Homo sapiens: one gene and its partner. The protein of the gene in region 1 interacts with the protein of each later gene in a biochemical or structural test. Each region holds a gene or a part of one and is shown on either strand. Other genes may lie near its edges. The genes, in order: DNAJC3 and EIF2AK3.

The links.
Region 2: the proteins of DNAJC3 (region 1) and EIF2AK3 form a complex in vitro, tested with the Homo sapiens proteins (one study listed by BioGRID).

The regions. Positions count from the first base shown.
Region 1 is NC_000013.11:95,791,829-95,795,712, forward strand, and holds the end of DNAJC3 (dnaJ homolog subfamily C member 3 precursor), read left to right. Parts: 3' UTR 1-3,160; downstream 3,161-3,884. UniProt on the Homo sapiens protein: Involved in the unfolded protein response (UPR) during endoplasmic reticulum (ER) stress.
Region 2 is NC_000002.12:88,568,465-88,575,464, forward strand, and holds part of EIF2AK3 (eukaryotic translation initiation factor 2-alpha kinase 3 isoform 1 precursor), read right to left. Parts: exon of another isoform or gene 6,983-7,000; coding exon 6,202-6,982; exon of another isoform or gene 6,050-6,201; intron 2,578-6,049; coding exon 2,410-2,577; intron 1-2,409. UniProt on the Homo sapiens protein: Metabolic-stress sensing protein kinase that phosphorylates the alpha subunit of eukaryotic translation initiation factor 2 (EIF2S1/eIF-2-alpha) in response to various stress, such as unfolded protein response (UPR).

The DNA of each region.
Region 1 (3,884 bases):
AAGTGCAGATTGAAATACTTTTTAAACAACTGAAGTTCTGAGTTTTTATAGGGAATTTCATGTAACAAGACTGGTTTAGAAACGTAAAGTTGCGCAGTCAACATAAATAAATACAGAATGCCATGTTCTCCACTTCTAAGTAAAGACAGTGGGCAGCTTCTGTTTCTCCTTCTATCAAGGCTTCACCCTATCTTAAAGGTCTGTGGTGCCTCCCACGTGGGACCTGTCTGCTGGTATGTGTTAAACAGCAGACCGGCCCTTCTACCAGATCTTGATGCCTCTGATTTTCTCCTGCCTACAAGAAAATACAGGCAAGGTTAGTCAGGTCTGGCTATATTTCCACTGTTGTTTCATTTAATAAGATGGCATCTCCTCTTGAGATATGTTCTTCTTACCTTTTAAGAAGATACTATTTAAGAAGTGAACTATTCAGTCTTTGTATACTGAATGCTTTTTCCCTAAAAAATGTTAATCAAGAATATTGAATATTTATGGCACTCTTGATGCTGCATTTGAAAGCTGAAGGAATTACTTTAGATAGATAGGAATTGCTACCTTTATTCTGGAAAGGTTTTGTTTCTGCCTCAAAGCATTTTGAAGTGTTTTAACCATTAAAGGGTCTAATTTTTTTTTCTTAATGAAATCAAGCATTTTAATTCACTGTGGGAGGCATCCTGACCACGGACATCCATAACAGCAAAGCACAAATCGTTTTCGTCTGTAGTCATATCCTGAAACATAGGTGGACAAATTTTTAACTGAGAGACAAAAATCACATAGTTGAATTGAGCAGAACACTTAAGTGCTTTCTGCATCTATTTAGGAGTCTATTTCTTACCAATAAACTTGACAACGCATTTGGAAAACTAGTGAACACCTTACAGCTTTCATTTTGCTTTAATGTTTCAATTCAAGCCGGTGTAAAAATAATTTCCAAGGCATTTCTGTTTATTCTTTAGTAATCTCACTACTGGCTATGTCAGCAATATCTTTTTCAATCTGGTTCCTTTTGTATATGATGTCACTGTGACCTCTTTGAAATATAGTGATGGCTTTTACCTACTTTGAAAAGAATTTTCACATAGAGTCAGAAAAAAAAGGAAATATCAAATCACTTGCCTTTCCACTTGGAGAGCACGACAGTTGCCAACAACAAGGGGTCAAGGGCCGCACAGGAGATGTGTGGGGGCCTGGCCACCTCCCACCTGCTGCCCAGAGGCTTGTTTGCATTTTCATTTTTTCTCCACTTGTAACAACCATAGTTTCAGCTCCTAAATTCTTATCATGGATTTACTTAGTCATCTTAACTGACCTGCAGTTACTTGCCTGTTTTCAGTGAAGAGAGAGAAGCAGCTCTGGTGCCACATGCCAGTGCCATGGAGGGAAATGAATTCTCTGCAATCTGTTGTTTCGCTGATTCATGAAGAAAGTAACAACTGTTGAGTTTCAGCCTTGATGGCTGTCGGCAGTTTTCTGGTGTCCACCCAAACGGAGAGACAGTCACTCCTGCTTACCCTAATGTGTGACTGAGAAGCAGCCTGGGTGTGTAAAGAGATAGTCATTCCCCCTGCCTGTCTCACTGTAGGGTAGCATTATCCACTGTAAAACCATACTACTTTCATTTTCCCTTGGGGACTACAGGTGCCAGGTAACCTTTTTTTTTTTTTTTTTTTTTTTTTGAGACAGAATCTTGCTCTGTTGCCCAGGCTGGAGTGCAGGGACACCTCCCGGGTTCAAGCAGTTCTCCTGCCTCAGCCTCCAAGTAGCTGGGACTATAGGCACGCACCACCATGCCTGGCTAATTTTTGTATTTTTAGTAGAAATGGGGTTTCACTGTGTTAGCCAGGATGGTCTTGATCTCCTGACCTTGTGATCTGCCCGCCTTGGCCTTCCAAAGTGTTGGGATTACAGGCGTGAGCCACTGCGCCTGGCCATCAGGTAACCTTTATGGCTCTTTCAGGAAAAGTGAAATCAGAGAGGCGTACCCTAGCCACAGCTGTTGTATTCTGCTCTTCTTTCCTTTTTGGTGAGCTTCATGGGTGGAGTTATCAGTGGTCTGTACTTTGTGGATATTTTGCCCAGCAGGAAGTATTAGACACATCAGTCTAGAAGCATTGTGAAAAGGTTCCAAAACGGGAGACAAAATTTAATTCATTCCTCAGTTCTGAAAGTTTGTGCTTTCTTACCATGAATAGATGAAAACTTGAAAAAAATCTTGACAGTTTACTAATGTGAATCAGATGTAACGTACTACTAATTCTACAATGCCTTTCTCTTTAGTCAGTATTAAAAATCTTTTTTAAAGTATTGGTATGAAAACAAATTTTTGTTGCCCTGATAATGGAATTTTAAAACTACCCACAGTTTAAGAGAAAACATAACTTGGTAAAAAAGGTAGCCAATAAAACCACAATTTGAAATTGATACCATTTTCTACTCACAATGGATGATGAAAAATTTCACCTTTAAATGGGTCAGAAGTTGTCTTTGACATTTACCATGAAAAAACTACATAAAATGGCTCCCTGGTGAGGTTACAGACACGGCCCTGGTGATGGGCGTTGCAAAGTTTTCACTGAGCACACAGCAATGGTATCACCTAGAGAAGTTCACGCAACTTTGTTGAATGTAGTTGACTTTTCCAAATTTATAAAGGAAGGAAGAAGGCAAATGTTAATTTGCCAACAACGAATATCCTTTTTCTAAATCAGATCATTCCTTTTTTGTTAGTGGCAGTTTATCCTGTAATTTCAAATGACGTTAAGAGGTGGGATTATTTGGGGGTTTTTTTTGTTTGTTTACAGATGATCTCATTTGCTGAATGATTGATTTAAGAGTAAAATTAGCCACTGCGTGGCTTTGTGTATAGTAACCGGTTTTGTTGCACTTGTCTGTGGCTGAAACACTTACCTGCAGTGGAAAGCCGAGCAAGGAGGAGGTAAACATTGGAGATGTTTGTGAAAATATTACTCTTGCTGTGAGGTTTTAGTTTGTTTTGAATGAGAAAAGACTAAGTAACTTAATCCATCTCAATGTAGTGTTTTAATAAAAAAGGAACCTAATATTTGAAATGGGTCTCAGACATGTCTACAAATATGGGTACTATTTTTATGCCCGTGTATTTTCACATTTAATAAAAATATTTATGGTCATATCAGTATTTCCTTGCTTTTGATTCATTTTTGTCCTTGAGTATAAAATTCTAAGAAAGTCCGTCTTAGGAAAAGTCTATTATTTCCAGCTTTGCTTCACGCAAAACCAGTGACTGAGGTGACAAAAGGGCTCTTCCTTTACACAAGTTGACAGGGAAGGTCAGAACACACAAAGCAGAAAGGGCTAAAATAAAATCTCTTAACCCTCAAAAGTCCTAGGACAACTAAGGACTTAAAAAGTGGACAAGTCTTCCATTTCAGTGCTATTAAAATGTAACACTTAAATTGGCTTTGTCTGAAGATTTTCTCTTCTCTTTTATACCCCATTTGTACATTTCTGTTAAGGTCCTAAGTTGGGAGGAAGGAAGGACACTATAGCCTATCTATCTCAAATTTCCAGCTACAAACAGAAGGAACTGCCTTCTCAGTTAATGTATTCTGCATATCTTAAGAAAGATCCAAGGAGAGCTACGATATGTAAATGTATACAGAACTTTTCCAGAAAGCTCAAACCTTCCTTTTTTTTTTTTTTTTTTTGAGACGGAGTCTTGCTCTGTTGCCCAGGCTGGAGTGCAGTGGCATGATCTCGGCTCACTGCAACCTCTGCCTCCCTGGTTCAAACAATTAACTGCCACAGCCTCCCGAGTAGCTGGGATTATAGGTGCCCACCACCACACCTGGCTAATTTTTTTGTATTTTTAGTAGAGATGGGGTTTCACCATCTTGGCCAGG
Region 2 (7,000 bases), on another chromosome or scaffold:
GTCCTTAGCAGTAGAAATTATTAATTTATTAAATCTCAACCTTTAAATATACACCTTTTTAATAATCTGACAAAATGGAAAATATTCAGAAAAACATTTATGCTCCATACCAAAGTACAATAGTTGTCTCCAAGTTTGATACCTTGGATATGCTAATAACCCTGATCCAATCACTAAATAGTGTATGTATTAAAACGACAGTATGTACCCCATAAATATGTACAATTATGAGTCAATTTAAAAAACAAACTAATTTTAAGAAGTTGAGACCTGCTGATGTAAGCATAGATTAGCTTGTGAGTATCATTAGCATTTGTGCAATTATTTGAGTTACAATATGCTCTAGCTGCTCTTTTCATAGAACACCATTTTGACTTGAAAGAATAATTGGTAGACAAACTACAGTTATTGAGACTTGGATACTTGACAGAGAGTTTTTTTTTCGAGATGGAGTCTTGCTCTGTCACCCAGGCTGAAGTGCAGTGGTGCAATCTCGGCTCACTGCAACCTCTGCCTCCTAAGTTCAAGCAATTCTTGTGCCTCAGCCTCCTGGGTAGCTGGGACTACAGGCATGCGTTACTATGCCCAGCTAATTTTTGTGTTTTTACAAGAGACGGGGTTTCACCATGTTGGCCATGCTGGTCTCGAACTCCTGGCCTCAGGTAATCTGCCTGCCTCGGCCTCCCAAAGTGCTGGGATTATAGGTGTGAGCCACTGCGACTGGCCGAGGGACACTTTCTTAAAGATGAACAATGAGACCGGGCATGGTAGCTCACGCCTGTGATCCCAGCACTTTGGGAGGCTGAGGTTCAAGGATGGCTTGCGGCCAGAAGTTCAAAACTAGTCTGGGTAACACAGCAAGACCCCATCTCAAAAAAAAAAACAAACAACATTTTTTTTTTAAAGAGAAAAAAAGATGAACAATGTGAGAATGGCATTTCAAGGAAAACTAACAGTATTTGTTGCCAATGTTAAAAGTTGAGCTTTTAAGTGAAAATTAAAATTTTGGAAGATTTCAGTCTACCAGTGGGAATTTGATAGCCTCCTAATATGTACATAAAGCCTTTTCTGGTGAGATTGGTGGTTGTATTAACCAAAGTGACTTTTTATATTACATAATGAACTGTGATGACTTTTGGAATAGTTGCCAAACTTAGGGAACCAATAGTTTCCAAATGACTAATGCACAATGTAAAGTCAAGCATGGGTAAAAAGATCCATTCAAAGTACAAAATGGACCAAGGGATGTTAAAAGTACCAGAGTACAAAATATTCATGAATGGTTTTAGATTCCACAGTGTAAATGACTTCTAAGAAACTATCATTTACTAAGTTTTGATATACTATCAAAGACAAAATATCTACAATTACTTGAAATGAAATATTGCTCTTTTTTCCAACTACATATCTGTGCGAGGCCAGATTTCCTCATGTACTTCAGCCAAAATAACATACTGCAACAGATTGAACACAAAAGCAGATAGAAGAATGTAGCACTTTTATAAGTTAGCTTTAAAGAGACTGGCAAAAATGTAAACAAATGTCACTCTAATTTTTTTTTTTTGCAGGGGAATTGGTGCCTGTAATTTTTTTTTGTTTTAGAAAATACTTATTTTTCATAAAAATATCTTAAGATGTGATAGGTTTCATTGTTATTTAGTTGATTTAATAAAGTTTTATAAATTTCTCTTTTAACTTCTAATATAACAAATATCGATAGATAAAATTTTGTTAAGAAAACCTTTTGGGTTCTCAGTTATTTCTACAAGTGTAAGTATGTACTGAGCCCAAAACGTCCGAGACCCGCTGCTCTAAGCATAGAGAAGCTTGTGAAGATCATTTGCCTGGTGGTGGCTGAGCATGCTCGCCTGATGCTTCCAGGATGCCCTGCTCCCCCAGCTCTTCCAGTCCCTGCCCTGATTACAGTGCTTTTCCTGTGAAGGCCAAGCAGCCCACAAGGCAACACCTGCCGGCCTGTGTGCCTCTATTTCCTACTGTGGTACATGCTGGAAGTTGCCTATGAGTGACCACAAAGGGCAGCTCAGTATAGTACCTCTGGGTCTAGCTGGCTCTGAAAACAGTTCCAACACAGTCTACACAAGGCAAACGAGTTAAGTTTGGGAGGGTGGCATTCAAAGTCTCTTTCCAAATTCCTGGTTGCTGTCAGGTGCTTGTTCAGGGGGTGAGTGCATTTTATGTGTTGTATTTTTCTTAATCCAGCCCCAATTCAGGTTGTAGAAACTACATCTTAGCTGTGTCACTATTCCACTACTGGAACACTACTGCCAGTTTTCATAATTTTCAGACTTACTGGGTTTTAGATTACTGGGTATTTTAATGAAAACATGAGAAGAGATTCATCAGGTACATCTGCTGCTGTGCTAGTAAGTAAAGGTCTGAAAAACTCACCTGCTCTGGGCTCATATACAGTTTGGTCCCTACTTGTCCTGTGTGTCTGGCATAAGCTGGCATTGGGGTCAGAACCGTCTGCTCTTCCTCATCCTGGTCCATTGCAGTCACTAACCCAAAGTCTCCAACCTTGACCACATCATCCATTGTAAAGAATATGTTGGATGGCTGGAAAGAATACAACAGACAAAAGTACAGTGGGTGTGCATGGAGGCGAAAAAGTAAAGAGAATTATTTAAAAGACTACAAAGAAAAAATACAACAAACTAGATATTTTCAAGCATATTTCTTTTTAAAATGGGCTAACAGGAAAATAGTGACAATTTTTCTGTGCCAGACAAGTACTGCTAGTAAAGAAAAGGGAAGGGTAGCAAAGAGTGCTAGTATTTATTGAACATCTACTTAAACCCTTTGAGGTGCACATTCCCTAGGGATCATGGTACTTAATCCTCAATCTTATTATTCTATATATTCTTCCCAGGCAAGCATCTCTACACTTATGACTTAAAGCCTTAATAATTATAACTAATAATAACTAGTTCATAAATAGAACTTGCAATGTGCTAGGCACTGTTCAAAGCAGTTTACTACTACTAACTCATGTACTACAACCCCATTAGATGAGTACTAACCCCATTTTACAGACATAGAAAGTGAGGCCCAGAAGTTAAACAAATTGCCCAAGGTTACCCAACTAGCAAGTGGTGAAGCAGGGATTCAGACCTGAGCAGTCTGGCTCTATGAGGAAAGGACCTTGTGATCCACTGCCACGTGCCCAGATTTCAGTCCAGTTCTTGCTCTATGGTAGCTAATTACTATTTGGTGAATGAATGAAACAGACTGATCTTTTGGTTTGCGTCTGAGGGGGATATAGATTATCAGAAGGGATAAGAGCTCTTCACTACTACTCTATGCTGCCTCTCGTAAAACCTCTATGTTCTCAAGACTATATCTACTCCCAGATCTCTGCCCTGAGTTCTAAACTCATATTACACTGTTTATTGAATACATCTAACCAGAGGTCTCATGGGCTTCTCAAACCCAAGGTGCCCTACATGAAATACATCACCTCTCCCTCAGAGTCTACTCTACTCTGCGGGTAATATGACCACCATTCATAGCCCTTGAAATGAGGAAAAAGGAAGCCATTTAGCTCATGAAATTGAATTTCATCATGTTTCAAATACTGCCAGAAAATAACATTGCATTCCCAAACTCTAAAATACCATTAAACGATTTTGACTTGGAAGCATGAAGTTATTGTGTATAAGATCTATGGTAATAATCTGCAGCTCTCCAATAAATAACTTTGTACCAGAGGCAATAATAGACTATCCTGCATTAAATGTCATCTTTCTTCCCAACTCCCAACATCTGATGGCAGTTGTTATTTACTGAACCCTATAATAGACAAGCTTTTTGGCTCTCCAGTATCTATCTCCCTGTGCTTCCAGCAGAAGTATCTTGACTTTACTTTGGGAACTTCCTTCTTGCTGACTGTGCAGCAAAACCCCACGGTTAGTGTGGAAGGCATCCATGCTCTAAAAGTTGCTTACGCCAATCCATGGAATCCCATTGCCTGGCTAGGGATTGTTGAGGGATGGGTAGGTGTCCTTGGTTTAAGTAGAATAAAATTTCTGATAGTGGGAAAAAGCAATACTTTTCTCTCCACCCTCTACCCCACCAACTCCAAAAGACTTAAATAGAAACAAGAAATGGGGAGGACAGAAACCAGGTTCTGGCTAAATCACTTGATCTCAGCTAAAGCTTTACCTGAATTCTCAACAGTTTAGCCATGTGGGCCAACAGATTTCCTTTTCTGGTTAAGTCAGTATAAACACTTTTGAGTGCAAAGAAAATAAAATTCAAAATAAATGGTATGACCATCTAGAACATTCAGGCATTGTACTGAGACTATAACAGGTAAAAGAAACAGATATGGTTCATACCCCATAGAAACCACAGAATAAATAATCCAGGTGTGATGAGAATAATGAAGAAGGACCAGGTTTCTGTCAGAACAGTGTATATCAAGAGGAACTGAGAAAAGTTCAGAGTGGAGAAAATAGAAGACTAGAAGTTAGTCTGAAGAGGCAGGAGCCAAAGTCCTGAAGACAAAAATGTGACCAAAATATAACAGGGGGAGAGGGCCTAGAAGGTTTAACATTGAGCTCAAAGATTTAGGTCAGAACGTAGCAAAATGTACAGCTTTTTCACCCAGGAACAAAAATCTTGGCTTTTTTTTTTTTTTTGGTTGGGGGTGGCGCACTAGAAATCTTTAAAAGGAATTGTCTTCTATTTAGAAAGGAATAAAACTTTCTGATTTCTAGAAAAACTAACAGGAATATTAACTTTCTTCTTGCAATTTTTCTGGTGCATAGACAATTACAGAAAAATCTTTAGACAACATTGTAGCATTAAATGGATATTTACCAATATCTCATTTACATTATAAAATTAGCAGAAGAATATTCATTATTAGTGAAAACATGATTCATTGTCTTTCAAGTTGGCATTTGTGTGTACAGCAAGTGTTAAGTACAAGAAGAATGTGTATTTCAGCTAGCTGTTTCCCACCTAGTGATAAGCGTTTACTATATTCAAACCTAACTGCTAGTATTCTCTCAAATTAGGGGTGTGTGGTCTCCTGTAAACTGTCTTCTCCAATCCAACCAAATAATTCATCTCTGAACTTTTCATTCAGTGCAGAACAATTCTTGGCAATCAGTTTGGGCCCACGTCAAAATCACTGAAGCATAATGATTTATATGACTAAATAACAATTATATTAAAAAATAAGAATTATTTCTAATTCCTATTCTTGTTACCCTAAAACTCTTAAAATATACCCAAGAATTTGAAAACCTACTGCTGATTTTAGAAGAAAATAACTTGTGTCCAAATAGCTACTTTTGTGCCTGAAACAAGTCTGTTTTAAGTCTGAAAAGACTTAAAATGGATCCACATCTATCAAGACTTTAAGCTACTTTCATCAGAAAAGTATTTATACATTCACTCCACATCTACTGGTGATGGCTAAGAGTATATGGAATGTGGGAAATTAGTTAAATAAAAGTTCCATGTACTTATTTTTAGAAACACTACTACGGAAATGTCATGTTTTAGTAAGACTCTTTAATAATTTTGCATATTATATTACTGCAAAATTCACTACTGAATATATTGAAAATAGAATCCAAGGTTTTAGAGCTGTAAACAGTCATCTGTTAACTATTTGCTACCTTTCCCCATTCGGCTTCTTACCCCTTCCCCCAAAGTCTAAACAGTTCAGAAAAAGAAGCAAAAGTGTGGAGATTTGCCCCAATTCAAGCTGGCTAATGAAGGAACCCATGTCTCTCCTTCCATTCGGATCCCTTTCACCATGCTGCTTCAGAGCCCTGGAGGTATTGGTGTCAGGGTTACTCAAAACCATAGAAAAACAAAAACAAACAAACAAACAAAAAAACAGGCTATATCTGCTCATGGTGGATTTTACCTAAAGATTCTTTTTTCTTTTTTTTCCCTCACCTGGACTACTGAGAATACCTTTTACAGTAAAATGAACACAAACACATTACTGAAGACAATGAATGCATGGTTTGCCTAAAGTTTTCAGACATAAGACTTCTTATTCTTGCAGCAGGCCCCTTCGAGGCTACTTTCTCAGACCTCTGCTCTCAGATGCTTTTACTCTCCCCAACTCTTAAGGATCCTTCAGAGTACTGCAAGTACTGCTCTGAATCACAAAACGTCAGATTGAAACCCCAAGGGTGATGCTCCACAAATACAGACCTTGAGGTCCCTGTGCATCAGTCCTTTACTGTGAAGAAACTCCACTGCCTCTGCGATCTGCAGGAAGATGTGCAGACACACGCTCCTCTCTCTCTCCTCTATGGTACATCGTCCATTCATCCAGTCTTTGAGGTTTTCTTTTCTGCACAGCTGCATTTGAATGTAAAGATACACCTTTGGTGAACTGGGCTGGAGTTTTTCTGTGGTGTTTTTAGTGAGATCTAAACTTAAAGTGGTTGGTCTTGGAGGAGAAATAGACAATGTAGCTTCAGAAGAAGATTTGCTACTGGTGGGCTTGAAAGCAGTTAGTTTATTAGCACAATGGTTGCCAATATGCAATCGATTAGTTTTCGGCTCTTCTTTACTGGAAGCATTATCACAGCCAGAATCTTCAAATACTATTGAAGAGGAGGTTCTCTCCCTTGACCTTACATAAGGAGAAGCTTCAGAAGGACAAAGTTCAAAGGAGTGCCCCTCATCATTGCCATCCATAGTCCCATCTTCCACATCACAGTCTGTAAGGCAACTGTCCTGGAGGTTGTATGCTGCATCCACTGACTCACTGATGTCCTCATGGTCCATTCCTGAGAATTCCAGTGGTGAGAACTGGCTCTCAGATGAACTTGTCTGGTCACAGGAAATCCCTACTGAAAAAGACCTGCTTCTTTGTGGTGAAGGAGCTATGATTTCAATATGTTCTTTTGTAGCGAAAGGATCCATTCTGCGTATTTTAACTGATGGTGCATCCATTGGGCTAGGAGAGCTGAGTGGCCAGTCTGTGCTAAAAGTGGGAGAAATA